4 linked regions of the Homo sapiens genome follow. The protein of the gene in region 4 purifies or fractionates together with the protein of the main gene of each other region. This does not show direct contact. Each region holds a gene or a part of one and is shown on either strand. Other genes may lie near its edges. The genes, in order: PRMT7, UBP1, PPP4R2 and TAFA3.

The links.
Region 1: the proteins of TAFA3 (region 4) and PRMT7 purify together in Homo sapiens (affinity purification with mass spectrometry; 2 studies listed by BioGRID and IntAct, with this or other methods). This does not show direct contact.
Region 2: the proteins of TAFA3 (region 4) and UBP1 purify together in Homo sapiens (affinity purification with mass spectrometry; 2 studies listed by BioGRID and IntAct, with this or other methods). This does not show direct contact.
Region 3: the proteins of TAFA3 (region 4) and PPP4R2 purify together in Homo sapiens (affinity purification with mass spectrometry; 2 studies listed by BioGRID and IntAct, with this or other methods). This does not show direct contact.

The regions. Positions count from the first base shown.
Region 1 is NC_000016.10:68,313,993-68,321,026, reverse strand, and holds part of PRMT7 (protein arginine N-methyltransferase 7), read right to left. Parts: intron 5,131-7,034; 5' UTR 5,048-5,130; coding exon 4,953-5,047; intron 1-4,952. UniProt on the Homo sapiens protein: Arginine methyltransferase that can both catalyze the formation of omega-N monomethylarginine (MMA) and symmetrical dimethylarginine (sDMA), with a preference for the formation of MMA.
Region 2 is NC_000003.12:33,388,395-33,395,428, forward strand, and holds part of UBP1 (upstream-binding protein 1), read right to left. Parts: intron 5,061-7,034; coding exon 4,918-5,060; intron 4,221-4,917; coding exon 4,169-4,220; intron 1,975-4,168; coding exon 1,937-1,974; 3' UTR 1-1,936. UniProt on the Homo sapiens protein: Functions as a transcriptional activator in a promoter context-dependent manner. Modulates the placental expression of CYP11A1. Involved in regulation of the alpha-globin gene in erythroid cells.
Region 3 is NC_000003.12:72,999,799-73,006,832, reverse strand, and holds part of PPP4R2 (serine/threonine-protein phosphatase 4 regulatory subunit 2), read right to left. Parts: intron 1-7,034. UniProt on the Homo sapiens protein: Regulatory subunit of serine/threonine-protein phosphatase 4 (PP4). May regulate the activity of PPP4C at centrosomal microtubule organizing centers.
Region 4 is NC_000001.11:112,714,831-112,721,904, reverse strand, and holds the start of TAFA3 (chemokine-like protein TAFA-3 isoform 1 precursor), read right to left. Parts: upstream 3,001-7,074; 5' UTR 2,606-3,000; intron 1,329-2,605; 5' UTR 1,271-1,328; intron 1-1,270. Other genes in the region: PPM1J (protein phosphatase 1J), read left to right, coding at 6,604-6,929. UniProt on the Homo sapiens protein: Plays a role in the regulation of microglia polarization.

The sequences.
Region 1 (7,034 bases), on a different chromosome or scaffold from region 4:
AAAGTGCTGGGATTACAGGTGTGAGCTACTGCGCCTGGCCTATTTTTTTGTTTATTTTTAGAAACAGGGTCTCGTTATGTCACCCAGGCTGTAGTGCAGTGGCTATGAACAGCCTCAATCATTGGGCACTGCAGCCTTGAACTCCTTAGCTCAAGAGATCCTCTTGCCTCAGCAGAACTACAATACAAGCATCCGTCGCTGCACCTGGCCACTTTATTTTAATAGAGTTTCAAGCTGTTATTCTCTAGTGCTGCAGAAAAAAGTCTCAGAGAAAGATGTTCTCAGACCTAAAAATGCTCCAGTAGTTAGCTGCTGGGAACAGGCCCCCAAATCTGGCCAAAAACAGGCCCCAAAACTGGTCATAAACAAATCTCTGCAGCACTGTGACATGCTCGTTGATGGCTATGATGCCCACACTGAAGGTCGTGGGTTTACTGGAATGAGGGCAAGGAATACCTGGCCCACCCAGGGCGGCTTTCGCTTAAGGCGTTCCTGAACCACAAACAATAGCATGAGTGATCTGTGCCTTAAGGACATGTTCCTGCTGCAAATAACTAGCCAGAGCCCATCCCTTTGTTTCCCGTTTTAATCTATAATCTATAGGAACAATGCTTATCACTGGCTTGCTGTCAATAAATATGTAGGTAAAGTTCTGTTCGTGGCTGTCAGCTCTGAAGGCTGTCAGCCCCCCAATTCCCACTCTGCACTCTATATTTCTGTGTGTGTGTCTTTAATTCCTCTAGCGCCACTGGGTTAGGGTCTCCACGACCGAGCTGGTCTCGGCAGTTAGCCCTGTCACAGTAATTCCACAGCCACTAGCATCTTGATCTTGCTATACACTACACATTTTCCTCCTCAGGAAAAACTCAGACTCAATCTGCCTAATACTTGACCTAACCTGGCCTACATCTCTGCCTGGAGATAACCACTGATGCGGTATTAGGGAGAGCAGCCGGGGAAAGAGAAGCACTCACATACACCCACTGTATATGTGACAGGTACCCCACTGGGCACGTTCACTTAACATCATCAGGGAAAACTAAAGAGTTCACCAATACCGTAGTAAAGGGAGGAGAATCACTTCTCCATATTTCCTACTGCAGTAATTCACACACTGAAAACCCTCAGGCGGGGTCGGGATGAGCACCCAGAACTAGGCAGGCCCTGCCACGCTTTCTGGGAATTCAAGGGGACAGCTAAGGAGCTCACATTAAAACAGAGGCCCTCCAGCCTTGGGTCAACACTAGAATCACTAGAAAGCTTACCTGAAATGCAGAGTCCCAGAACACACACACACACACACACACACACACACTCTCACTCTTATTGAGAAGGCTGGGCTAATGTGCTCCAGGCAATTGTGCCACAGGTGGTCCACATTCCACACTTTGAAGAGCGGTGCACTGAAAGAAGGGGGTTCTTTTTTTTTTTTTTTTAATGGCACATCAAGGTTTTATATCTGAAGCCAGCTATGGATGCTTAGCTGAAATGTAGTCCTTTCTACCTCTGCTCACTATTTAAAAGGCATCTCACTCACCACCTTCCTGGCCTCTTCACACTTACTGCCCACCACTCCACTGACATCACTCTCGGTAACCACCACCAGCTCACTCCTGCAGCTGATGTCAGTCATCAGTATCTGGGACTTCCCAGTGCCTCTGACCTTGCTAGACACACTCCCTCTTTCTTCCTTTCCATGCTGGCTATCTCCCTTGCCCTTCTTTGCCTCCTCAGCTATTCCGGGATTCCTTCTTCAGCCCTCTACCTTTCACATTCCACACCCCCTTGAGAGACTGCAACCTCTCCCAGTTTCAGTTCCAACAACTACAAATTCTGTCTCCAGACCCAAAATTCTATCTGCCATTGGCATCTCTATGTGGATGTCCAAACCTAAACGCCTAATCTCCATCGTGTTCCCCTCCCCACACCACCCATTCCTCCCTTGCAGGCCCCATCCACTTTGTCATTCTAACCAGAAGTCTTGGTGCTTCTTGAATCTTCTCTCTCCCTCCATCATATCCAGTGAGTTACCAAACTCAAGTTCCCCCGAGCTGTCTCCTCTGGGACTATGCAGCTCTGGGACTACAATATCCCCAAATGCTCTCCTCTCCACACCGCTCTCAGTGAGTGTTCCAAAATGCAATCCAATCCTCTTTCTCTCCTGTTTAATATATCACTCAGAAAATAACGTCCAGGCCTGACACTGTGGCTCACACCTGTAATCCCAGCACTTTGGGAGGCAGAGGCAGGTGGATCACCTGAGGTCAGAAGTTCAAGACCAGCCTGGCCAACAGGTGAAACCAAGTCTCTACTAAAAACACAAATATTAGCCAGGTGTGGTGGCAGATGCCTGTAATCCCAGTTACCTAAGAGGCTGAGGCAAGAGAATCCCTTGAACCTGGGAGGCAGAGATTGCAGTGAGCCGAGACTGCGCCACTGCACTCCAGCCAAGGCAACAGAGTAAGACTCCATCTGAACAATAAAACAAGAAAATAATGTCCAAAATGTTTAGAAATATTTTAAGACCTGGGCAGGTGCAGTGGCTCACGCCTGTAATCCCAGCTCTTTGGGAGGCCGAGGCGGGCGGATCACAAGGTCAGGAGATCAAGATCATCCTGGCTAACACGGTGAAACCCCGTCTCTATTAAAAATACAAAAAATTAGCCGGGCGTGGCAGCGGGCACCTGTAGTCCCAGCTACTCAAGAGGCTGAGGCGGGAGAATGGCGTGAACCCAGGAGGCGGAGCTTGCAGTGAGCAGAGATCGTGCCACTGCACTTTAGCCTGGGAAACAGAGCGAGACTCTGTCTCAAAAAAAAAAAAAGAAAAAAAAGTAAATATTTTAAGCCCTAATTCTGCACCAGATACTGTATTACATTTAATCATCAAACAATTCTAAGATAATTGTATTATACTGTGAGATAATGTATTACTATATTGAAGTATATATTATTTTATATTAAGGCTCAGAGAAGTAACTTGGCCAAGAGAGTAAAGAAGTGGCAAAGCTTGGACTTAAACTCATGTTCCTCTTCCTGCATTTTGCTACCACCCTTTACAAAATGACCCCGCGTATGCTTTCGGCAGCCTCTCTTACCATAGTACTTTTGTACCACACTCCAGCTGCACTAAACTGCTAGCTGCTCCCCAGAATAGCCCATCTGTGTGTGTGTGGTTTTTTTTCTTTTTTTTTTTTTGAGACAGAGTTTAGCTCTTGTTGCCCAGGCTGGAATGCAATGGCACGATCTCGGCTCATGGCAACCTCCGCCTCCCAGGTTCAAGTGATTCTCCTGCCTCAGCCTCCCGAGCAGCTGGGATTACAGGCATGCATGCGCCACCACACCTGGCTAATTTTGTATTTTTAGTAGAGACAGGGTTTCTCCATGTTGGTCAGGCTGGTCTCGAACTCCCGACCTCAGGTGATCCGCCCGCCTTGGTCTCCCAAAGTGCTGGGATTACAGGCATGAGCCACTGTGCCCAGCCTGTTTTTGGTCTTTGTTTGTTTGTGAGACAGTGTTTTACTATGTTGAACTCGTGGGCATAAGCAATCCTCCTGCCTTGGCCTCCCAAGTAGCTGGGACTACAGGTGTAGGCCACTGCACCCAGCCACAATCTGGCTCATCTGAAAGCTTACCTGTAATCCCTGCTGCTCAAACTTCACCTTCTCTTCCTTTAGAACTGAGAAATTATTCAAACATTACCTCCCACCCCAAGTTCAGCTGGTTCTTGCTGCTTCCATGACCTCTTGTGCCTTTATCTCACTGTGCTGTAATTTTTTTTTTTTTTTTTTTGAGACAGAGTCTCACTCTGTTACCCAGGCTGGAGTGCAGTGGCACAACCTTGGCTCACTGCAACCTCCACCTCCCGAGTTCAAGTGATTTTCCTGCCTCAGCCTCCCGAGTACCTGGGATTACAGGCGCCCACCACCACTCCCAGCTAATTTTTTTTTATAGAGACGGGGTTTCACCGTGTTGGCCAGGCTGGTCTCGAACTCCTGACCCTCAAGTGATCAGCCGCCACCACCCCCTCCACCGCCCGCCCGCCCGCCCTTTGCCTCCCAAAGTGCTGGGATTACGGGCATGAGCCACCGTGCCTGGCTTTTGTGCTGTAATTTTGTATGTGCCTGTCTCTTCCACAAAACTGCATGGTCCTTGAAGATGAGAACAGGATCTTCTTCATCTGGTATCCACAGCCTTAGCACAATGCTGGCACACTGAATGCACTTAATGATTGCTACATAACAACTCACATACTTTTTTTTTGAGACAGAGTTTCGCTCTTGTTGCCCAGGCTGGAGTGCAATGGCTCGATCTCGGCTCAACACAACCTCTGCCTCCCAGGCTCAAGTGATTCTCCTGCCTCAGCCTCTCAAGTAAGCTGGGATTACAGGCATGAGCCACCATGCCCAGCTAATTTTGTATTTTTAGTAGAAACGGGGTTTCTCCATGTTGGTCAGGCTGGTCTCGAACTCCTGACCTCAGGTGATCTGGCCACCTCGGCCTCCCAAAGTGCTAGGATTAGAGGCGTGAGCCACTGCGCCTGGCCAACAACTCACATACTTTTAAATATTTCTTCTAAGGGAAAAAAAAAACCATTTTCATTTTTTTCATTCAAAAGAATTTAACCATATGATGAACATGTCACCATTTCAGTAAGGCAAGTAAATGATTCAACTTCATCAACACTACTGAGGCTTGGGTTTTCTTTGCTCCGTTAAACAGATGCTGAGGCTCTGCTAAGGCTGCTACATAATGTCTGACTCTCCAAACAGGCATGATTTTGCCTAACTGCTACATATACCTACCTGGCTGAGCAGACCTGCTCAGGACCAACACCAGCCCTCATCATAAGCACTGGGTGACAGCCTAGCCCACGCTCAGACTGGAGCCCAAGGCATCTGCTTTGAGATCAAGTGCCCCACCCAGCTGCAGCCTGCTGTAAACCAACCCAGTACCTTGCAATCTCCTGGTGGTAATCATAGTGTTCATCCTCCTCCAGCCACTCCACAGACCCCGTGGTCGGATTGGCCCGACTGCAGAAGATCTTCATGGTGCCCACTAGCTCCCCAGTTTTAGCACAGAAAAGCAGCCTTGCCAGTTGAGTTCTTGTGGACAAGTCTGACTGTCAGAAATCTATTAACATCAGAAGGAAACAGGAGGTATATAAACAAACGAACAGAAAAAAAATCTATTAACAGCACAATGCCCCAAAATGTGGAGGGGGGAAGGGGAGACAAAAGCGGGGAAAAAAATCAAGAAACTGACAAAAATGTCAAAGCCACTGATAGTATTTGTTAATCGATATTGTAAATGTTTCCAGCAGGAGTTACTTGGTTTTATATTCAGCATATAACATTAAAAAACTACAACAGATTCATACAGATGTCTGGAAACTTCAGCAGGCTTCGGTGCTTCCAAAAGGTTCAAATGAGCCTCACAAGTTCATCTAGGTGCAGCCCTCAAGGCTAGGAGAAGAGATGGGGTACTGTTAAAGAAGTGCCACCAATACTGCCTTCGTATGCTGAACCCTTAGCTTAAGGAAAAATATGAAGATAGAGCAAGTCAAACCAGGAAAACTTTCATCTAAACAATAAATTACAGTCACACATAAACCTAAAAATGGATAATCCCAGGAATATAATGATGAGCAAAAACAGCAAATCACACAACACATGCAATACGATTCCATTTCTATGAAATTTATAGCTATGCAAAATGGAGTGATACGTTCTTCAGGGATCACACTAAAAAGCATAGCAAGGAATCAGGATAGTTAACTCCTAAAAGAGAAGGGAAAGAGATGGGATCAAGGAGGGGTACGCAGTGGACTTCAAAAGTATTGTTCTTTTTCTTAAATTGGGTGGTGGGAACATAAATGTTCACGATATTAGCATTCTTTTTCTTTTTTTTTTTTTTTAAAAGATGGGGTCTCGTTATGTTGCCCAGGCTGGACTCAAACTCCTGGGCTCAAGCATTCTTCCTGCCTCAGCCTCTCCAGTAGTTGGGACTACAAGTGAGTGCCCCACACCCAGCTAATACTAGCATTCCTTATGCTTCATTATTTTTTATAGTGATTACTTCTTATCTATTCAAATTTTAATTTTAAAAGCAATTTTTAAAAACCCTCCATCATCTAAAAAAATTTTGCTTCAAACAAGTAAAATGTCACCAGATTCACGTCTTGTATGGCCTGTCTCCCCAAAGAGATCTATTTCTGGGAGGGAGAGAAACACCACCGCTCAAAGTCTAAAGGCACTCCTCAGCAGGTGTGGGCTCTCCCAATACCCATCCCTCTTACCATGCAGAAAGCAATAGGTGTTCTACACTGCCCTTCCTTTCTTGTTAAACATTGGTGCATCTTCAGGAAAACTTAGAAAGAATGCCTACTCCACATATCCCTAAACATTCCTATGGCATTTTATTGGCCAGAGTTTTTTTTCTTTTGAAGTTATCTAGAGTAAGTAAACATGGAATTCTTACACAAATAGATGAGAAACAGGCTGGGCACGGTGGCTCACACCTGTAATCCCAGCACTTTGGGAGGCCAAGGCAGGCGGATCACCTGAGGTCAGGAGTTCAAGACCAGCCTTGCCAACATGGCGAAACCCTCGTCTCTACTAAAAATACAAAAATTAGCCAGACATGGTGGCGCACGTCTGTATTCCCAGCTACTCAGGAGGCTGAGGCAGGAGAATCACTTGAATCCAGGAGGCGGAGGTTGCAGTGAGCTGAGACCGCACCACTGCACTCCAGCCTGGGCAACAGAGTAAGACTCCGTCACCAAAACAAACAAACAAAAAGCAAATAGATTAGAAACAATCTTCCCTGAACAAACTCAGGCCGGCAGTCAGGTTCAAAGTAGACAATTTGTCCAGGTAAAACTCTACTACTAAAATCTCAGCATACCTATCCCCTAGTCTAATGATTTTCAAACTTTCTGATAACCCCAGTAAGAAATATACTTTAAAATGAGACTCAATACACATACCTGCATGTACGCATACAACTAAATGTTCCACAAAACAATACTGACTTCC
Region 2 (7,034 bases), on a different chromosome or scaffold from region 4:
AAACAAAGTAACAAATTTGCTGGTGCCAAAATTTATTTAGCCTGTTTCACTGGGACAAACTCACGTTCAATGCCACTCAGTATAATTTCAAGTCTGATAAGCATCTAAGTATTTTTACCCCGCTTCTAAAACCTGATGAGGAATTCAAAATAAGCACACAGCATTAAATGACATTTATTGTTCCATAAATCTTGAGACCCAAAAAGGAATGCTAAATAGACAAGCAAAACTTTTAAAACAAACGAGATAAACTCACTTCTTTCCCCAGTGACTGGTACAGAAAACATGTGGTCACACGAAAGCAAAGGGAAAAAGTCAGAAAGGAAAACTCTCTGCCTATAGGATCTATAGGAGTTACAGATATTTTCAAATCGATGATGAAAATAGATCGTGCTTCTTTGTAGCAAATAATTAACCCCCTTTATGAATAAAACATAAAATGTCAAAGCTTTTACTCACTGAAGTAGTTTGTCTTCTGGGAGAGATTTCAAACTCAAAATTACTCATTTCCTATTTTTTGCCTGAACACAATGAGGATCAAATAGTACATTCAAATCAGGACACCTGGGTATATGGACAAAGATATCCTACAATTAAAATGGAATAGAAGTTAAAAAAAAAATTCAGTCCCCTACACCACAGGCCTCAAACATGCTTGCTGATGGATTCTGGGAAGGTTTTGGATGAAGGACGGAGATATGGGAGGAAAGTGAGAAAACAGTGGATTCCCTTTGAAAAGTATGCTAGCAGACAAGCATTTGGTTTTATGAAAGAGGCACTCTTATAGAGAAAGAAGCTAGTATGTGGTGTATAAAAAGCCCCTAAATCATCACCAGAATGTCTATCCATGATTGTACTAAAGCTCAATATTTGAGAGGCTTAAGGGATTTGTATGGTACATTTTAGTGTTTGATTGATAACATCTAGTGTTTCCAGAAAAAAATTCATCTTGTTCATAATGAAGATCCCTTAACACCTAGTCAGAAGCTATCAACAATAATACTTTCTCCCCCTACTTGGGTCACCTATTTCCAATGTCTGGGGTAGGGCTTTAAAAATGTTTAATAGGATGGTGGGGGTGGGGGGTTAGGGTGGGGGTGGTCAGAGATGGAGGGAGAGAGGGAAGAAAATGAGAGAAAAACCACGAGTTTAAAAGGCAAGGAATCTCCAAAAATGAAAACCAGAAACTAAAATGCTAAAAATGGAAGCAGAAGCAAAAAAGTTTTTCAATAAATCTGTGACAAAGCCAAAACACAAAAGTCTTTGTACCTATTAGGATTTACACTGATCCTCTCACCAAGGTACTCCTGATAATGCAGTTTGCTTCAAGCCCATCTTCCTGGCTTGGATCTTCTCCAATCTGGCATGATCATATCAAACGTACACCCTCAGACATGATTTCTTCCAAGAAGGTGCCGAGCCTCTTACCTGACCACCAACGGCCACATCAGCACAACACAACTCTCCGCATACAGATTCACTGCTGGCCCCACAACAGCACTGTCCCCCATCTCCTCTCCAGGTCAGCATAAGGTTCAGGCAATAAAAGCCAAACTGGCACAGAAAGGTAAATGCCCACAGTAAGTTTCTACATTCATTTCCAAACCGCATACAGTGTAAAAAGACAGCAAAGGCTGCTTCTAGGAACTGTATTTACTGGCCTCTGCCAGAGCAGCAGGCAGCTATGCCTGCACCGTGGCCTCCAGAGCTGGATGCATGCTGTGCCGATGTGCTCACTCTCATGAGGATGCTTGGCTATGGCAGTGACAGTGAGGAGATTCACCTCTCATACAGCTCATTAGAAAGGTCATCTTGTGTTTTCAATATGAAACATTTCATATGGTAAAATCCAATCCCAAGACTTCTTGGATTCAGTCTTCACACACTTTTAAGCGTGACTATTTGGTACTGAATACAGTTCAGTCTATATAAGACATCACTTCAAAATTATGTGGATGCCATCACTACTTTCAGCTGCAGAAAAAGGAAAGACAGTATTTCTTCAGTCAGGCTTAGGAAATTAAGCCTATTAAATGGAAAACTCCCTGCCAACTACAACCTCCCTTCCCAATTCAGAGGTTACCTTTAAATGATTCTAGAGAAACAAGCAGATTAACTTGCTCTAGCTCCTCTTCCCCCAAAAAACTTCATGTACACATTCCCTTTTTAGACATTCTGCGAAGCCTGGCCCACTATCAACGCCCGCATTCCAACACTGTCTGCCAGTTCTGGGGGTAGGGGGACATCTATCAAGACACACAATAATAGTGCTGTCCATAAGGGGAGCAAGAGCTAGAAGGAGAACAGGTGAAATATACTGTGTCAGGGCAGAGGACCTGAGGGAGTAAATGCAAATGTGTACATCTACCTTTTCCAGAAAAATTTCTGAGCTACTCACAGAGATTTCAAACATTTTAAAACTGTATCATTCCTTTTGCCTAGTGTTTCTCAGTAAATAGTGAGAAGCAATATAGGCATTCATAAAAAAATGATTTTTCTCATGACGACAAAGTTTAAAAAAAAAAACAAAACAGTAAATTGAGATTAGAGGGGAGATCCTATGATTTCTAATACCAAAAAATGTCTGCTGGTTTCACAAAACAAAACTATGCAATTATAGTATATGTCTTCTTTTTCAGACAATGTCAGTTATGCAAGGTAAAAACTGTACTGCTGTGAAAACAAAAGACTGAGCAGAAGGGTACTAGGCTAAAGATGTTTCTGAAAGAGTGAACCAGTTCAGAGTTAAAACTCAGCCTTGCAGGTAACCTGATGGCATACGCAACATGTGAGGCGCAAAATAAAATCAGTATTTCAGTAGTCTGGGGACACCTGACACACATGACATCTCCCTCTTCTAGGGGCAGCTTTTGTGCTAAGACCGGATTTGGATCTTAGCTCACCTGACTTTTAAAACAGTCTATGAATGTATGATCTCTTCTCAAATAATTTTACATTTAGGAATCCCTCCTCTTTAATGTTGGAGCCACCTAAGCCTGGTCCTGGCTCTTTTCATATTCTCTCCCTAAATGACCTTAACAACTTCTACAGCTTTGAGTCACTGCTGATATGCTGAAGGTTTCCAAATTTACATCTCAAGCCCAGGCCTCTTCTCTGAGCCCCAGACTGGTAATAGTCAACTGCCTACTTGACATTTCTACATATCCAAAATCAAACTCTTGGTTGATTTACCCCAACCATACTTACCTCTTCAATGAGATCACCATCTGCCCAGTTACTTTCCACAGAAAATAAGGTGTCAGAACTATTCCTCCCTCAAAAGTGGAGCCCACTGGGACCCTGTCTATAAACGTGTAAGATACCATCACCTTTCACCTGGATATCTCCTGCCTCGTTTTGCCACCTTCTCATCTGTCTCCACAGAGTTGTGAAAGTGAAAGAAAAATCTAGTCACATTACTACTCCTTTGTTTAAACAACTTCAGTGACAACCCAATGCATTTCAAGTAAATCCGAACTACCATCATCATCCGGTCCCCGCATGCCAGACCCGGCCTCCTGCTTTGATTTGCCCTGATCCGCTCACCCTCACACACTGCATGGCACCTACATGGCCCACTGCCAGGCTTTCCAAGAAGCCAGGTGTTTTCTTTGCACACAGCCCCACGTTGCCTGGGGATGCTAATCCAATGGCCAGCTCCCGCTTCTTCTCATTCTTCAAGTCTCAGGATTAATAACACCTCCTCAGAGAAGCCTTGCCTTACAGTTTCATATTCCCCTCAACCCAGATCTCCCTTATCCATAAGTACCCCCACACTTTCCTGTTCCTTCATGGAACTTAACATATTGGGAATTTTGTGTATCTCTTGGCCAATTTTGGTTTGCTTTCCCCAATAGGAGTTTCATGGATTCTGTTTTATTCAATAGATCCACTGAGCGACAGAAGCACGGTGTCTGACACAAAGTGCTCAGTAAGACGTTGGCTGAATGAATTGAGATTTTTTTTTCCAGTCATCTAGAAAGACTGACTCCTCTTCCTTATATGCTAATTTCTGTTACAACCACTAGAAATATTCTCATTTATCAAACTTTCTTCTTAAAATGAGTAAAGCAATCATTTTAAAGAATAAACACGAGAGGCACTAATTAGAGGCACACACCATCTCTCATGATTCCAGCATTTTAAGACACACACACATGCAAAGTACCTTTTACTGTGGAGAATAAAAAACAACTCTCATCTTGAAAATTCTGAACCATCTGGAAGGATAAAGTAAATGCGTAAGTACAATTAAGATCCAACTGTCGTTTCTTAAAATGATTTTAAAACAGTAAATATTCTTCTCAAACAAACACAGGACTCAATGGCCAAAACGATAATTCATGAAGGCAGTGTGAGGCAGCAAAGATGCACACGTGCTGCACTGCCTTGTGTTCACTATGCCTGTCCATAATGGTCCCTGAGAGACCTGGTCAGTCACCCATGTGACCCACAGGGGCACATTCCCTGCCGGCTCCAGTGGATGATGACTCGAACAAAAATTGCATAAAGTGCTCTTCTATTATTACTTGCCACCAATCACTAGGGGAAAAATTATATATCTTACATGTTTTTTTAAATTAGTCATCAAATAATAGACAAAAGGAAAACACATCCAGTGACTCACCTCATAAAAAGGGCCAAAGCCTGCCACTATCCCTAGAGTGCCCCAGTGATTGGCTGCATCCTAAAGGGCTGGGGGGAGGCTAAGCCAGTTTTCCTTGGCTTGTATTCCATATTATCACTAGGATGCCTGAAACTCTTGGTTATAAGTTCTTCCAAAGTGATTCCCAACTCTCTGAAAATGATTCTCATAAGTATTTTCAAAAGAGGTCACAGAATTTTTCTACAGTTCTACAATTACATGTATAAAAGTAAATACCAGTCTGAAAAGGAAAAACAAATGATTTGATTTACCTGATCACTAACAAGAATGTGAATACCGGTGGGACCCTGTCTGTAAACCTGATTAATTTGGTGGAGAGGGATATTAAACACCAGCGCAAGTTTTCGAGCAACTTCTGAGGCAATCATTTCTTCCAAGTAGATTGCATGATAAACTGAAATTAAAAAAAAAAAAAGAAAAGCATTTTAACAGTAATCTTTGATCTGTTTTCTGCCTGATCTGTAGGATCTGTACGAAGGTCACACCTTTCAAAGTACCAAAAAAGTAAAAAAACATTTTAAATGGGAATAAACTATTTCTTTCCCCCATCTTACTACCTTGAAATCTTGAACTACCAATCTAAAACGTAAGAATACATTATTTATATCCACAAATATAATTTAATAAACATTAACAGAAATCCCTGGACAAAAAGATTTGAGGTTTGAATTTTTCTTCATATTTTTATTCAATGAATATAGTTTCATGTATTCAAAATTTAAAAACAGGAATTGGCTGCAAATGGACATGGGGGATCTTCTTGAAATAATGGAACTCAAACTGAATTTTGACAATGGCTGCCAAACTCTCTAAATTGGCTAAAATACCATTATATACTTACAATGGGAGGACTTTATGGTATGTAAATTATGCCTGAAGAAAGCTGTTTTTAAAAATAATATATACTTCATGTATTTCTAGCAATATACAAAAAGAACCCTAAAAGAGTCATAGTTCTTTTTGTTTATTTTTTTAAGACAGTGTCCTTTTTTGTTGCCCAGGCTGGAGTGCAGTGACACAATCACAGCTCACTGTAGCCTCTGCCTCCCAGGCTCAAGCAATCCTCCCACCTCAGCCTCCTAAGTAGCTGGGACTATGGTGGGGGCACACGCCACCATGCCTGGCTAATTTTTATTATTATTATTATTATTATTATTATTATTATTTGTAGAGACAGGGTTTCACCATGTTGCCCAAGCTGTCTCAAACTCCTGGGCTCACGCAGTCTGCCCAGTTAGGCCTCCCAAAGTGCTGGGATTACAGGCGTGAGCCAGCACGCCCAGTTAAGCATTATAGTTTTTGATCCAGTAATCCTACTACTAGGAATTTATCCTAAGGAATAAAAGCTATCTGTATATGCCCCTCCCCCACAAAAAATTTTAAATAAAAGATACTATATGAAAAGCTAATATAAACAATGAAGTGTGATGCTTCCTTACAGAAAGCCCCAGCCACATTCCAGTGTTCTGCATTTTTGCTACACAGAACTTATCAGCAGACATCTGCACAGTGCACATCTGTAGTGAGTCTCACTCTTGTACGTCCTGCTCAATTACTGATTAAAGCCAGACATGGATCAGGAATATCATTACTGAGAACTTTGCTTCCCCAAACAAGGGGTCTGTGAGTATAGAAACCCAGAATTTTCCATTACATAAAAGAAGCTGGAACTAAAATTACAGTAAGAATATAGAAATGATCTAGAGCAGGTGTCACCAAACCACAGCCCATATGGGCCAATTCCTGCCCTCCACTTGTTTTTTTTTTTTTTTTTTTTAAATAAAGTTTTACTGGAACAGCCTTATCTACAATTTACATATTGTCTATGGCTATTTTAGCACTACAATCACAGAGTTGAATGTGAGAGACCCTATGTATGATCTAAAGAGATGGAAATATTTACTACCTGACCTTTTACAGAAAAAGTTTGCTGATTATGGGAAAATATCCAATATTTCCCCATATCCCTCCACAAACACTCATGTTTGAGAATACACCTTCCAAAATATTATAATCTTGGCCATATCTAAGTGATGTATAAGCTCTTGATGATACATGGAGATCTCCTTTAAATTTTTATCCTTTAAGAATTTGTATACTTAATCTCAAAATTCAGAGCTTTTGAAGTCAAAATAATACCAAATAGAAAAGTTCACAGTAGTGATGCTATCCTTCCAATTTTTCAGTAAAATTCAAACCACAAGACATTTTTCAGAGCTCTACCTATTCTTAGGGCAAATAACTGCATCTCTGAATGCCATTAACACATCTTTTTTTTTTTAAAGTTCTGAGCATGTTGCCTTTGTTCTACTTCAGAGTATGGAAAGAAGGAAATGTTACCATATATCCATACAATAAATGAGAAAAT
Region 3 (7,034 bases), on a different chromosome or scaffold from region 4:
AGCCAACAGGTACTCATTGGAAATCACTGCAGACCAATTTGAGAACAGCAGCTGAAACTGAGATGGATTTTGCCAACTCTAGCAATGAGTGAATAGACTGCTCTGAGTTCGAAAAGACGAAGCAGGTCTTGCTCACTTGAGCTCTTGAAAGTGACCCAACAGTGCTCCAATCTAGAGGTAAGCCCCACAATGAGGAGAAAGAGTCAAGAGAAATGAAGACAAGGTTCAAAAAAAAGCAGAAGTGGAGAACACAGCCTGGAATTTCAGAATGCAAACTGCCGTGTTCTTAAAACACTTCACAAAACCAACGAGAGTGCTCCATGTAGTTAGAAAAGCTACTCTGGGCCAAGTGTGGTGGCTCACGCCTGTAATCCCAGCACTTTGGGAGGCCGAGGCAGGTGGATTACGAGGTCAGGAGTCAGCCTGGCCCATGTGGTAAAACCCCGTCTCTACTAAAAATACAAAAACTAGCCAGGCATGGTGGCGCGCGCCTGTGGCCCCAGCTACCAGGGAGGCTGAGACGGAAGAATAGCTTGAACCTGGAGGCAGAGGTTGCAGTGAGCCGAGATCATACCACTGTATTCCAGCCTGGGCAACAGGGCGACACTCCATCTCAAAAAAAAAAAAAAAAAAAAAAAAAAATTGTGGCATATTCATACGATGCATCTACTCAGAAATAAAAAGAAATACAAACTATGTTGAATAGAAGAAGCCAAAGAATACATACTGTATGGTTCCATTTACATAAAATTCTAGAACTCACAAACTAATCTACATTGACAAAAAGTTGCTTGGAGGGAAGGCAGCACACACAGGGAGGGAAGATTACAATGGGGCATGAGCAAACTTCTGGGAGTAATGAATGAACATGTTCACAATCTTGATTGTTGTGATGGTTTCCTGAGTGTAGATATGAAAACTTAGCAACCTGTACATTTCGAATAAATACAGTGTATTGTATGTCAATTATACCTCAATAACACTGATTTTTTTTTTTTTGCAGACAGAGTTTCACTCTTGTTGCCCAGACTGGAGTGCAACGACGTGAGCTCGGCTCACTGTAACCTCTGCCTCCCGGGATCAGGTGATTCTCCCGAGTAGCTGGGATTACAAGCATGCACCGCACCCAGCAAATTTTGTATTTTTAGTAGAGATGGGGTTTCTCCATGTTGGTCAGGCTGGTCTTGAACTCCCGACCTCAGGTGATCCGCCGGCCTCAGCCTCCCAAACTGCTGGGATTACAGGCGTGAGCCACCGCACCCGGCCCGTAACACTGCTTTTTAAAAAAGGACTCAAAAGAAGAATTCAAGACAAAATGATAAGTACTGAAGATATGCAAAGATGCAGCAATATAGTCTCCCTCCCCTCCCCAACAAAAAAACCAAAGACAACAATTCACTTTCTTGAAATATTTAATATTTTTTAAAAATTTAAAAATTCATATTGAAAGACTACACCACCAGTGTGTAGATAAGTGGATAAAAAAAAAAAAAAAGACCACACCATATACCTGAGTACAATGACTCCAAAATATCCAACATTGATTTTCAAAATGCTTTTAAAGATCTAGTCTATAAAAACCACTGTATTTTGGCCGGGCGCAGTGGCTCACACCTGTAATCCTGACACTTTGGGAGGCGAAGGCGGGGAGATCACGAGGTCAAGAGTTTGAGACCAGCCTGGCCAATATGGTGAAACCCCGTCTCTACTAAACATACAAAAATTAGCCAGGCATAGTGGTGGGCACCTGTAATGCCAGCTACTGGGAGGCGGAGATTGCGGTTAGCGGAGATGGCGCCACTGCACTCCAGCTTGGGCAACAGAGCAAGACTCCGACTCAAAACACACACACACACACACACACACACACACACACACACACACACACGACTCCGACTCAAAACACACAAACACACACACATGACTCCGACTCAAAACACACACACACAAACAAACAAACAAACACACACACACACACACACACACACCCCACACTGTATTTTAAAGAAAAAAATCTTTTAGGAAGGTAGGCAAAAAGATTGGGCAGTTTATAAGGTAAAAAAAATTATCATCAGATGTTAACAGCTGGCCAGGCATGGTGACACCTCTGTAATCCCTGCACTTTAAGAGGCCAACAAAGTGGGCAGATCACTTAAGCTCGGGAGTTCAAGCTCAGGAGACCAGCCTAAAAACATGGTGAAACCCCATCTCTACAGAAAACACAAAAATTAGCCAGGTGTGGTGGCATATACCTGTAGTCCCAGCTACCGGGAAGGATGAGGTGGGAAGACAGAGTTTACAGTGAACCAAGATTGCATCACTGCACTCCAACCGGGGCAAAAGAGCAAGACTCTGTCTCAAAAATAAATAGATTTTAACAGTTTTACTGGGGGGAAACAATAGAATTAACAAACTTAAGACACTCAAGGATAGAAAATGTGAACCAAAGATTTTACTTCCAGCCAAAGTGACCTTCAAGATTAAAGGGCACATGCCAGGCACGGTGGCTCATGCCTATAATTCCAGCTCTTAGGGAGGCACAGGCGGGAGGATAGCCTGAGCCCAGGAGTTTGAGACCTGCCTGGGCAATATAGCGAGACCCCATGCTCAACAAAAAGGGGAAATAAAAAGGGGGGCAAAAAAAAAAAAAGAATAAAAGGCACAGACAACATACAAGACATACACATAAGAACTCCAGGCCAGGCGCAGTGGCTCATGCCTGTAATCCCAACACTTTGGGAGGCCGAGACAGGCAGATCACTTGAAGTCAGGAAATTGAGACCAACCTGGCCAACACGATGAAACCCCATCTCTACTAAAAATACAAAAGTTAGGCCAGGCACAGTGGCTCACGCCTGTAATCCCAGCACTTTGGGAGGCCAAGACAGGCAGATCACCTGAGGTCAGGAGTTCGAGACCAGCCCAGCCATCACAGAGAAACCCCGTCTCAACTGAAAATACAAAAAAGTAGCCGGGCGTGGTGGCATGCACCTGTAATCCCAGATACTCAGGAGGCTGTGGCAGAAAAATCGCTTGAACCCAGGAGGTGGAGGTTGTAGTGAGTCAAGATCGCACCACTGCACTCCAGCCTGGGCAACAGAGCAAGACTCTGTCTCAAAAAAAAACAAAACAAAAAAAAACTCCAGAAATATTGTTTCAATTAGCCGCTTTTCAATAATCTATTAAAGAATAAGCTTCATTCAGACAACCAAACTGACGAGAGACAGAGAGAATACAATGACAATGACATAAGGACTGGTTGTAGGCATGAGATATATACCTACTGTAAAACTAAGATTGACAGTTAAAAGGGAAAGTCAGCCGGGGCAGTGACTATGCCCGTAATCCCAGCACCTTTGGAGGCAAAGGCAGGGGGAGGATCACTTGAGGCCAGGAGTTCGAGAACAGCCTGTTCAACACAGCGAAACCCCGTCTCTACTAAAAACACAAAAATTAGCCAGGCAATGGTGGCACGTGCCAGTAACCCCAGCTACTCAGGAGGCTGAGGCACAAGAATCACTTGAACCCAAGAGGCAGAGGTTGCGGTGAGCTGTGATCGCACCACTGCACTCCAGCCTGGGCAACAGAGTGAGACTCTGTCTCAAAAAAAAAAAACAAAAGGGAAAGTTACGTAATAGCAATATGCTCAGACAAGGGAGACAGAAAAACTTTTAAATGGGGGCTAGAAATAGAGAATATGTAAAAAAAAAAAAATTTAACATTCCTAGTAATTATATTGGTGGCAGTAATATTCGCATTATTATTTTAGACTTTCTGATGTGTAATGTTGGTTACAATCAGTAATTACAAGACATCCTGATTCTATCATACCCTGCCTGTGTTCTTGAGAGAACCAGGATTCCTGGTATGCAAAAAGTTATAAAAACCCTGGGCCAGGCGCAGTGGTTCACACCTGTAATCCCAGCACTTTGGGAGGCCAAGGTGGATGGATCACGAGGTCAGGAGATCGAGACCATCCTGGCTAACACAGTGAAACCCCATCTCTACTAAAAATACAAAAAAATTAGCCAGGCGTGGTGGCGCATGCCTGTAATCCCAGCTACTCACGAGGCTGAGGCAGGAAAATCGCTTGAACCCAGGAGGCAGAGGTTGTAGCGAGCCGAGATCGCGCCACTGCACTCCAGCCTGGGTGACAGAGCGAGACTCCGTCTCAAAAAAAAAAAAAAAAAAAAAAAAAGAAAAGAAAAGAAAAGAAAAGAAAAGAAAAATCCCTGTGCACTCCCATGTTTACTGCAGCACTATTCACAACAGCCAAAATATGAAACCAGCTCAGTGCAATGGCTCATGCTTTGTAATCTTTGCACTCTGGGAGGATTGCTTAAGGCCAGGAGTTGGAGATCAGCCTAGGCAACATAGCAAGACTTTGTCTCTACAAAAAAAATTATAAATTAGCCAGGCATCGTGGCATGTACCCTATCTGTAAGTCCTAGCTATTCAGGAGGCTGAGGCAAGAGGATCCCTTGAGCCTAAGAGTTTGAGGTTGCAGTGAGCTATGACTGAGTTGCTGCACTAAAGCCTGGGCAACAGCAAGACCTTGCCTCAAAAATACATTTTTTTAAAACAAGGAACCAACCTGAGTTCCCATCAATGGAAAAGAAAATGTGGTATATTATTCAGCAATAAAAAAGAATTAGATCCTGTCATTTGCAACAACATGGATGGAACTATAGGCCATTATGTTAAGTGAAGTTAAGTCAAGCACAGAAAGACAAACATCACGTTTTCACATATGTGGGAGCTACAACAGTGGATCTCACAAAGGTAAGAGTCTAAAGACTGATGATTACTAGAGACTGAGCAAGGAACAGGAGAGATAAAAGGGGAGAAAAAAGAATATACATGTATTTATTACCACCAAACTGTACACTTAAAATGCTAAAGATGGGGCCGGGGGCGATGGTTCACGCCTGTAATCCCAGCAGTTTGGGAGGCCAAGGCAGGTGGATCACGAGGTCAAGAGATAGAGATCATCCTGGCCAACATGGTGAAACCCTGTCTCTACTAAAAACACAATAATTAGTTGTGTGTGCCTGTAGTCCCAGCTACTCAGGAGGCTGAGGCAGGAGAATCGCTTGAACTCAGGAGGTGGGGGATGAAGTGAGCCGAGATCGCGCCACTACGATCCAGTGTGGCATAGGGCGAGACTCCATCTCAAAAAAATAAAAAAAAAGAAGAAAGAAAACTAAAATGGTAAAGATGGTAAATTACATAAGTGTGCAAGTGTGCATGTGTGTGTTTGAGACAAGGTCTTACTCTGTTGCCCAGACTGGAGTGCTGTGGCACAATCACGGCTCACTGCAGCCTCAACCTCCCAGGCTCAGGTGATCCTCCTACCTCCTCCTCCCAAGTAGCTGGGAGTAGCTGGGACTACAGGCGCATGCCACCACGTTAGGCTAATTTTTTATATTTTTTGTAAAGACGGGTTTCACCATGTTGCCCAGGCTGGTCTCGAACTCCTGGGCTCAAGTGACCCTGGGCCACCTGCCTCAGCCTCTCAAAGTTCTGGGATTACAGACATGAATCACTGCACCTGGCCAGTAAATTATATAAGTATATTTTACCTAAACAAAAAAAAAACTTTTTAAAACGCTGTATTCCTCATTCTGAATTGCAAGTCTTAGTATTTTATGTAGCTGAGTAATAATAAACTTCTCTACCACCAAGATTGTAGTCTTGAAATGCCATTTCCCACTAAAAGGCAGGTCTTCTTGAGAAATATCTGATTCACATCTGGGGCAGGAAATGAGCTTGGAACATATTCTTATACCAGAGAATAAGGATACTATCAAAAACTACTAAGGTCACGTCAAAAGGACTCTGGAGCCAACTGGAAAAGGCTACCACTGACCAAATGGGAGACAACTTGACCGTCAAAAAGGATAATAATTGCAACTCAAACCCATCAAATACCTTTAAATCCATGACTGAAATGCATCAAGTGTTTAAATTCATGATTGAAACACACCATATGTTCCTGTTTATTCAGCGCATACTATATATTTAGCATGATGTCAGAAACTACATTACCTTCAGAAGAGTGTATTCTTTCCAACATAAAAACAATTTTTTGAAGTGGCCAGAAACAATTCACCTGGGGATTAATTATTTTAGTTATATACATATATAGTTTCCCTCTTCACATCAATTTAGTATGTCTTGGCATCTTTCCTAACTTCCTACATCAGATGTTTACAGGTAATTTTAATAGACTAAGAAGTAAAAATGTTCAAATTTTTCCTACGGCCTCCTCCATTTTTCCTACAACCTCCTCCATTGTAAAAGCCTATACTTACAATTCTAAAACCTCTCTAAAGCTAAAAGCAAGTGTCAAATCAATTGTCTTTTGAAAAGAAAACTAAGCAGCCTGGGGGGTCACTGATTTTGATCCATAAACAGTTTCACATACTACTTCTGTTAATGCTTTCTTGCTATAATGCATCAGTGAAAATAAAAACAACTATGAAATTTTTTTTTGAGACAGAGTCTCACTCTGTCACTCAGGCTGCAGTACAGTGGCACCAACCATCATGGCTCACTGCAGCCTCAACCTCCCACATTCCAACAATCCTTCTGCCTCAGCCTCTGGAGAAGCTGGGACTATAGGCATGTACCAACACACTCAGGTAACTTAAATTTTTTGTCCTGAGCTCAAGTGACCCACTGTTTCCCAAAGTGCTGAGATACAGGCATGAGCCACCACATCCGGTGGAAATGCTTATCTTAAGCAATCCACCCATCCTAAAACATCAGAAAAGTCTAAATTGCTGTTCTTTAAATTTTCATTTTCATTCTCTCGTTACAATCTCACATACTAGACAAAGCTTAGTTTAGCCATAAATAGGTAGCAGAAACTCTGCAAATGTCAGTATCAAAGATATGCCATGTTGATAAAAAGAAATCAAAGCTTAAAGCTAAATGCATAAACACTGGCTGCTATTTACATAATAAAATAAAAAATATTTTCCAAATTCCATTGAATATAAGAATCTAACTACACCAATCATTTCAGTACA
Region 4 (7,074 bases):
CTTGAATTCTTCACAACTGTCCTACAAAGCAACATTATTATTACCTGTTTTACAGATGAGAAAACCAAAGCTCAAAAAGCTAGGACATAACCTAAACAACCATCAGTAAAAGACTGGCTGAATACATCGTAAAGAGTCTGTACAAATGCAGTCCCATCCAGATAGCTGTAAAAAAACCAATGGGGAATTGCTTTATGTCCTGACACATGCAGTGATCTCCAGTGATAATCCACTGTTAAGGGGGAAAAAAAGCAAAGTGTAGAATGGTGTGTATACGATGTGTATAAGGCAGGCCAGGAGTGGTGGTTCATGCCTCTAATTCCAGCACTTTGGGAGGCCAAGGCAGGAGGATCACTTGAGGCCAGAAGTTCGAGACCAGCCTAGGCAACATAGCAAGACCCCATCTCTACAAAAAATTAAAAAATTAGTCAGGCATGGTGGTGCACACCTATAGTCCCAGCTACTCCAGAGGCTGAGGTGAGAGGATCAGGAGTTTGAGGCTGCAGTGATCTATGACTGTGCTACTGCACTCCAGCCTGGGCAACAGAGTGAGACCCTAGCTCAAAAATAAATAAAATAAAATGTGTATAAAGGAAGGATTATCTATGTTGCTCAGATATGCATAAACTAGCTTTGAAAAATATATTTTAAAACTAGTAATATTGTTTGCCATCCAAAAGGGAAACTGGTTGGTTGGGAGATGGAGGTAGAAGAGAGACTTTTTCTCCTGATTTATTTCTTGCTTTTTGAGCTGCCAACCACGGGAATGCAGTAGCACTTCAATTTAAACAGAATTTAAATTTAAAAAGGAAGAGGTGAAACCGAGGCTAACAGAAGTCAAATGACTTGCCCAAGGCCAGGCAGCATGTGGGTGGAAGAGTTCAGAGCCTAGAAGCCTGCCCTCTGCCCACTGCACCACCTTGCCTCTGTTCTCTTCCCCTTTCCTTTTCCTCTTTCATCGTTGATGGTTTGGGCCTCCCAAAGCTACCCTGAAGGGTAGGCTGGAAATGGAGGGAATCCTAAGGAAGCAAGAGGCACAGAGTAGCTAGGAGCTGCCCAGCCATTGAAGGGAGCAGGAGAAGTCCCAGGATGCAGCAAGGCCAAAAGCTCAGGGGTGAGCCTGGACCACTGCTGGGCCCCCACAAGTGCCAGTGCAGCTTTGGGAATACCAGAGGCCAAACCAACTGCTAGGACCCAGTTGCTCCTCAGATAGGGTACTTGATCTCTGTCCACCCCCGCTACTCCCCATCTTCAATGTCTCCCCACTTACCTTTTTGGGGATCTTTCAGTTTCTGTCTGTTCATCTGCTGTCCTCAGACTCACTCCACCTGGACAAGTAGGAAAGATTCATAGGGGGTTGCAAAGGATAGAGGGAGCCGATGGCTCTGCAGGGGGTGAAGGAGAACCTGGGAGAGGGCAAGGGGGTGGGCTGGGCACTGAAGTTCAGCCCAATTCTGAAGCTGTTCTCAGGTGCCAGGGCAGGGACAGTCTCTTCTGGCCTGGGAATCTGGAGGGGCTCTTGCAGACTCTGGGATCACACAGGGTGGTGAGCCTGAGAAGGGTGGCCTGAGGGAGTTTCTCTATCCCAAGAGTGAAGCAGGGTGATGGTAGGGAGGGGTCTAAGAATCACAGCTGTCATCTCTCTGGCCTTGGGAGGGAGCTGAGGGTCAAGGAAGGAGCAGAACCTGACAGATTCCTGCTGGAAGAGGCACGTGGGAGATACCTGAGGCCCTGATCCTCTTTGCTTCCACCTCCTACCCACTATGGCACCTGCTTCCTGGACTCACATGGAGCTGGCTTGGCTTAGCATCCCTTGCCCCCATTCCCACACCAGAGGGCTGGAATGGGGACACTCCAGGTCCCTGAGCCTTTGAAGGCCACAGCCTCCAATAGCTTTCCATTTCTCCCTAAGAACCTCTCTTCCCTCACCTCTCTAAAGGGAGGCAGAACTGAAACATATAGGATGGTGGGGCCCCGGAAGGACAGAGACCCCTGAGTCCTAGCTCCTAGGAGCGAGAGCATAAGGGGAATCTGGAGGAACACAGAGAAGAGGTGCCAGTTCCCAGGGGATGGGTGTGCTCCCTGGGCTGAGCTTCCCACTCTTCTAGATGTGCCTCTTTCCTGAGTAGAGATCTCTTCTCCCTGCCCTCCAGGAACCCTCCTTTTGACCATCACAAATGCAGCTTTGTCTTCTCTCAGGTGATCCTATTTCCCTCTGAGCTGCAACATCCTCCAATCCAACTCAGGCATCTCTCCTAGGAACCCCAAGGCCCAAAAGACCTTGGTGGGGTGGGGAGCAGAGGGGTGGGGGTGTTCATTTGGGCTCTCATCCCTGGCATTCTATTCCCTCCCTCCCTGAAACAGCTGGACATAGAAGCTTCTGGGATGTGTTTTTCGACTTCCATGCTCCTGCCTCAATTTCCTAGCCTATTTTTCCTAAATCCCAATCCAGGGGTTTAGTGAGGCTGAGTTAGCAGCCTGCATTACAAGGGTTTGAGGATGTGAACCACAAGAATCTTCAACCTTTCTTCACCTTCTCTCCCCACAAACCCCCCTAACGCCTACTCATTCCTCCACATTCTGAGCCCCCACACCTGGGACCTACCTGGTCCACGGTGATGCCCACTGGTTCGATCTGCTGGCCTGAAGTCTTCCTTGCCACTGAGCCAGGGACCAGCACTCCGAAAGACAGACTTTGGGAGGGAGCGGCCAGCTTGGGTGCTGTCTAGTCCGGAGCCCTGTCCCCTTCACCAAGTTGCTGCGCCCCCGGGACAGCGGGGTTCTGGTCAGGTTGGCATCATCCGCAGGGCGGGCCGGGCTCTGGGCACAGGGGAGCTCTGGGCCCGGCCCCGCCAGCTCTGCAGAACTCAGCCGGGTTTTTTCCAAGGTTCCTGCCGGCAGGCCGGGGAGCGCGCAGCCGCCGCCGCAACCGCCGCCTCGCCCCGGGCTACCCCCGCTCCTCCAGCCCCGCGTGGGCGCCGCCGCCTCCTTCGGGACAGTGCCAGGCGCTCGGCTGAACGGATGGGCACAGCCGAGACGCAGCGGCCCCTGGCGGCCGAGGGCAAGAGGAAGGGAGAGAGGACATCCGGCACCCGCAGGTTCAGTGAGGATGGACACCTCCGTGGTGGCAACTCAGAGGAGGTCCCTCAAAACCCTGAAGGTCTTGTGGCCCCCAGTGCCCTGGCTCAGGGGAGGTGGAGGTGCTGGGGGGAAAGGAGCTGGGAGTGAGGAGTGATTGACTAGACCCTCAGGGTTTTTGAGCTTTGAAGATTGCAGAACTGCATTGTCCAATACGGTAGCCACTAGTGGCATGTTGATATTTAAATTTAAATCTAAATTAATTAAATAAAACTTAAAATTCAGTTCCTCATTAGTAGGCACCATATTTCAAATGCTCAATAGCCACACGAAGATAGGGACTGCTGTATTGGACAGAGCAGATGTAGAACATTCCCGTCAGTGCACAAAGTTCTGTTCAGCAGCACTCTTCTAGAATGATATTTAGGAGGGAATAGTAAATATCTCTTCCTCTCCCAGGAGTGGTGCTCTCAGGGGCTGGGAGGGCTAGAGGAAGTATGAGGGTGTGGGCATTAGGCAGGAGGACAGTAGTAGGCTATGAATGGTCCCTATGGATGTTAAGTGTGAATACCAACATGGGAACCAAATTCTGAGACCTAGTTTCTTGTTTCTCTTTCTTTCTTCCTTCCTTCCTTCTCTTTCTTTCATTCTTTTTCTTTTCTTTTTTATTTATTTATTTTTTGGGGACAGGATCTCATCACTCTGTCACCCAGATCTTGGTTCATTGTAATCTCCACCTCCTGGGATCAAATGATCCTCCCATGTCAGCCACCTGAGTAGCTGGGACTATAGGGGTAGTCTGTAGTGCACTACCAAGCCAGGGTTAATTTTCTGTATTTTTTGTAGAGACAGGGTTTTGCTATGTTGCCCAGGCTGGTCTTGAACTCCTGGACTCAACTGATCCATCCACCATGGCCTCTCAAAGTGCTGGGATTACAGGTGTGAGCCACCACTCCTGGCCTGAGACCCAGTTTCTTTATCAGAAAAATTGTAATGTAATTAATTGCAACTGAATAATTCTTTACAGAGATCTGTTTTGGATGCGAATGTATTAGACAAATGAGAGGAAGTGGTGTTCTGTGAATTTGAAGGGACTTTCCTCTTAGTTTAAGAGGCCTTTGGGTTTAGGGTGATGTGAAGGGGAGAGACAAGGCAGAAGATGACCAGTTCTGGGCCCTGAGCCACCACTGTGGCCTGAGATAAAGGGGCCTGTCTTGAGGCTGTCCAGTCCCCCTCCTTGGTTCAAGCTTCACACTCCCCCAGCAGGGCCAGCCACTAAGCAGAGTCTCACTCTTCACAGAGAAAAACATCCCACAAGTCTGCTTCTTCATACCCCATCCCCTTTTCTCTCTCACTTTCCGCTGCCTCAGGGATGAGTAGAGGTGATGACCTCACCAGGTTCTGGGGCAGTCTGAGGATGGAGGAGGCATAATGGTGCCAGGAATAGGAGGTGAGAGGTTCAGGGAGGAGGAGCCTTAGGATTAGGCCATGGCTGGGGGCTGTTCTGGAGCCCCAGGGAGCTGTTATTCTCCCTGCTGATCATCTGGTGCTGGGGCTGGGGGGGTCTCTTGGCTTAGCTTTGCGGACAGCTTGCAGCCACACCATGGTGGGTGCTAGAAAGGGCAGGGAATAGGGAGCTGGGTGACACGAAGAAGTGGTAAGTAAACTGTCCCAGAAACACTGAATAATAAAAACAACCAGGAGTTATATTTGTTTCTTCAGTTGCTGGCTTGCTGCTGCTGTTATTTATCTGAGAGTTGGTTCCAGTTTTTCTCAAATAGCAGGGGAAAACCTATAGAAGCAGCCTGTTCTTTGTCCCCGTCTTCTTTTGCTGCTCTATTTGCCTTGGGGTCTGTTTTTTTTCTCTCCTGTGACTTCTTTTCCTCTGTCTCTCTCTGCCTAAAGCTCAGGTGTAACAAAGCAGGCATAGTAAGTCTACCAACCTGAAGGACCACTGTGGGATCTTTATTTGGAAGCTGCCAAGAAAGTCATCCCTTCTGGGGACACAGTTTAGCCTGGGGAACAAAGTGGTATGTGGTCAGGAAGCACCTGGCCGACAGAGCCCAGAAAAGTTCCAGCCGTGAACTGGGTGCCGTAGTCCCTGATGGCTACTTCCAACTTGCTTGAGGGCCACAACGGCGTTGTCCCCATTTGAGATGTGTGGATGGGTGGTGTCTGTGGATACCTAGCGATCAACTTTCTGATAGGAGGTTTAGAGACAGAGCTCTTGTGGCATCAGGTCAGTACCACCCTCTCCCAGAGGGGAGAAGTTAGGAAGAACGGGCAGCCAACCAGGCATTGGGCTCTGTCCTGGTCTTCCAGTGAGTGTGCTTTTACTCTTCTTAGGCAAGGGCTTAGCCTGGCCTCTGTCTCCCCCTGGCGGTAGACACAGAACTTGCTCAGCATTCCCGGACTGCTCTCAGCCCTGGCCCTAAGAGAAGGATGGGAGGGGAGGAACCCCCACTCCTCTCTCTGCCATTGATCTCCTTTCTAGCCCTTCCTCCCTGATCCGGAGAAGTAAGCTTGGTTCTTAAGACAGAGCAGGTTTGAATGTCAGGAGGCCGACATAGGTGTGAATCTTTCACTTGACCGTGTGACCTCCTGGGGCAAGTCACGGTAAAATGACAGGAAGCGTCCCGTCCTGCCTCATCCGTGAAACTGACAGAAAAAAAACCATCTTGAAGGATTGGTGTGCAGTATAAATAACCTAATACTGTATGGAACGTGCTTTGTAAAGGGTCTAGTATGCAGTACTTCTTCAATAAATAGTATTTGTTATGTTGTTATTATCCTATTAATAGCTTGTCCTGCTGTGGTCAGGGAAGGTCTGCATTGTGGGAAAGACCTGGGTTCTGAGAGAGAAAGGAGGGTGGGAGTAGCAACCGCTCTCCCAGATCTAGAGGTGGTCTTCACGGGGAACAGCGCATCAGGAGCCCAGGAATCTACCCCGGCTCCTGATTCCGGGGTGGTCGGCTGCAGCCTGCGTCATTAATCCCGCAACCCCACCCGGTACCAGCTTGCCCGCTCTCGCTCCAGCAGCCCCATCCAGAGGTGGTGTCACACCTGGCGCCTCATACCCAGCGGCTCCCAAGCGCCTGTTTTGCTCTGAGGTCATTAGCTCCATGGCTCTCTGGGCTGGCTGGCCACACCGAACCGAGAGCGAGGAGACCGCACCCCCTTGTCCCTCAGCCCCCGTCACAATGGAGACATTCTAGCTGTGTCTAATCTAGCGCACGGCTGAAATAAGGTTTCCTTCTCTCCGCCCCCTTCCCACAGCAACAGAACCTACCCCTAAGAAACGGAGGCGGGGCCAAGCCGGAATGGGGCGGGGCAGAGGCCGGGGACCCGTGGGCCGGTTCCTGGGGTGGCCCAGAGCAAGGGCAAGTTTCGCCCGGGACCCGCCCAGCTGGCCGGGAGCCAGTAGCAGGGAAGGGCCGGCTGGCGCGAGCACCGCCCACGCGGAGCCATGGGGGCGGGGCCTGGGCGGGGGCGGGGCCGCGGCCGAGGGCGGGGCAGGGAGGCAGCATGCTAAACCGGGTGCGCTCGGCCGTGGCGCACCTGGTGAGCTCCGGGGGCGCTCCGCCTCCGCGCCCCAAATCCCCGGACCTGCCCAACGCCGCCTCGGCGCCGCCCGCCGCCGCTCCAGAAGCGCCCAGGAGCCCTCCCGCGAAGGCTGGGAGCGGGAGCGCGACGCCCGCGAAGGCTGTTGAGGCTCGAGCGAGCTTCTCCAGACCGACCTTTCTGCAGCTGAGCCCCGGGGGGCTGCGACGCGCCGATGACCACGCGGGCCGGGCTGTGCAAAGCCCCCCGGACACGGGCCGCCGCCTGCCCTGGAGCACAGGCTACGCCGAGTGAGCGCCCCCTGGGGCACCCAAACCAGGATGGGGCTCCCACCCCTCTCCCCAGCTCCGCATCCCCGGCGCTAGGACGCGTTCCCCACGCCGCGTCCGGGCCAGGAGCTCCCTTTTCCGTGGACCTTTGCTATCCTCTGGTCTT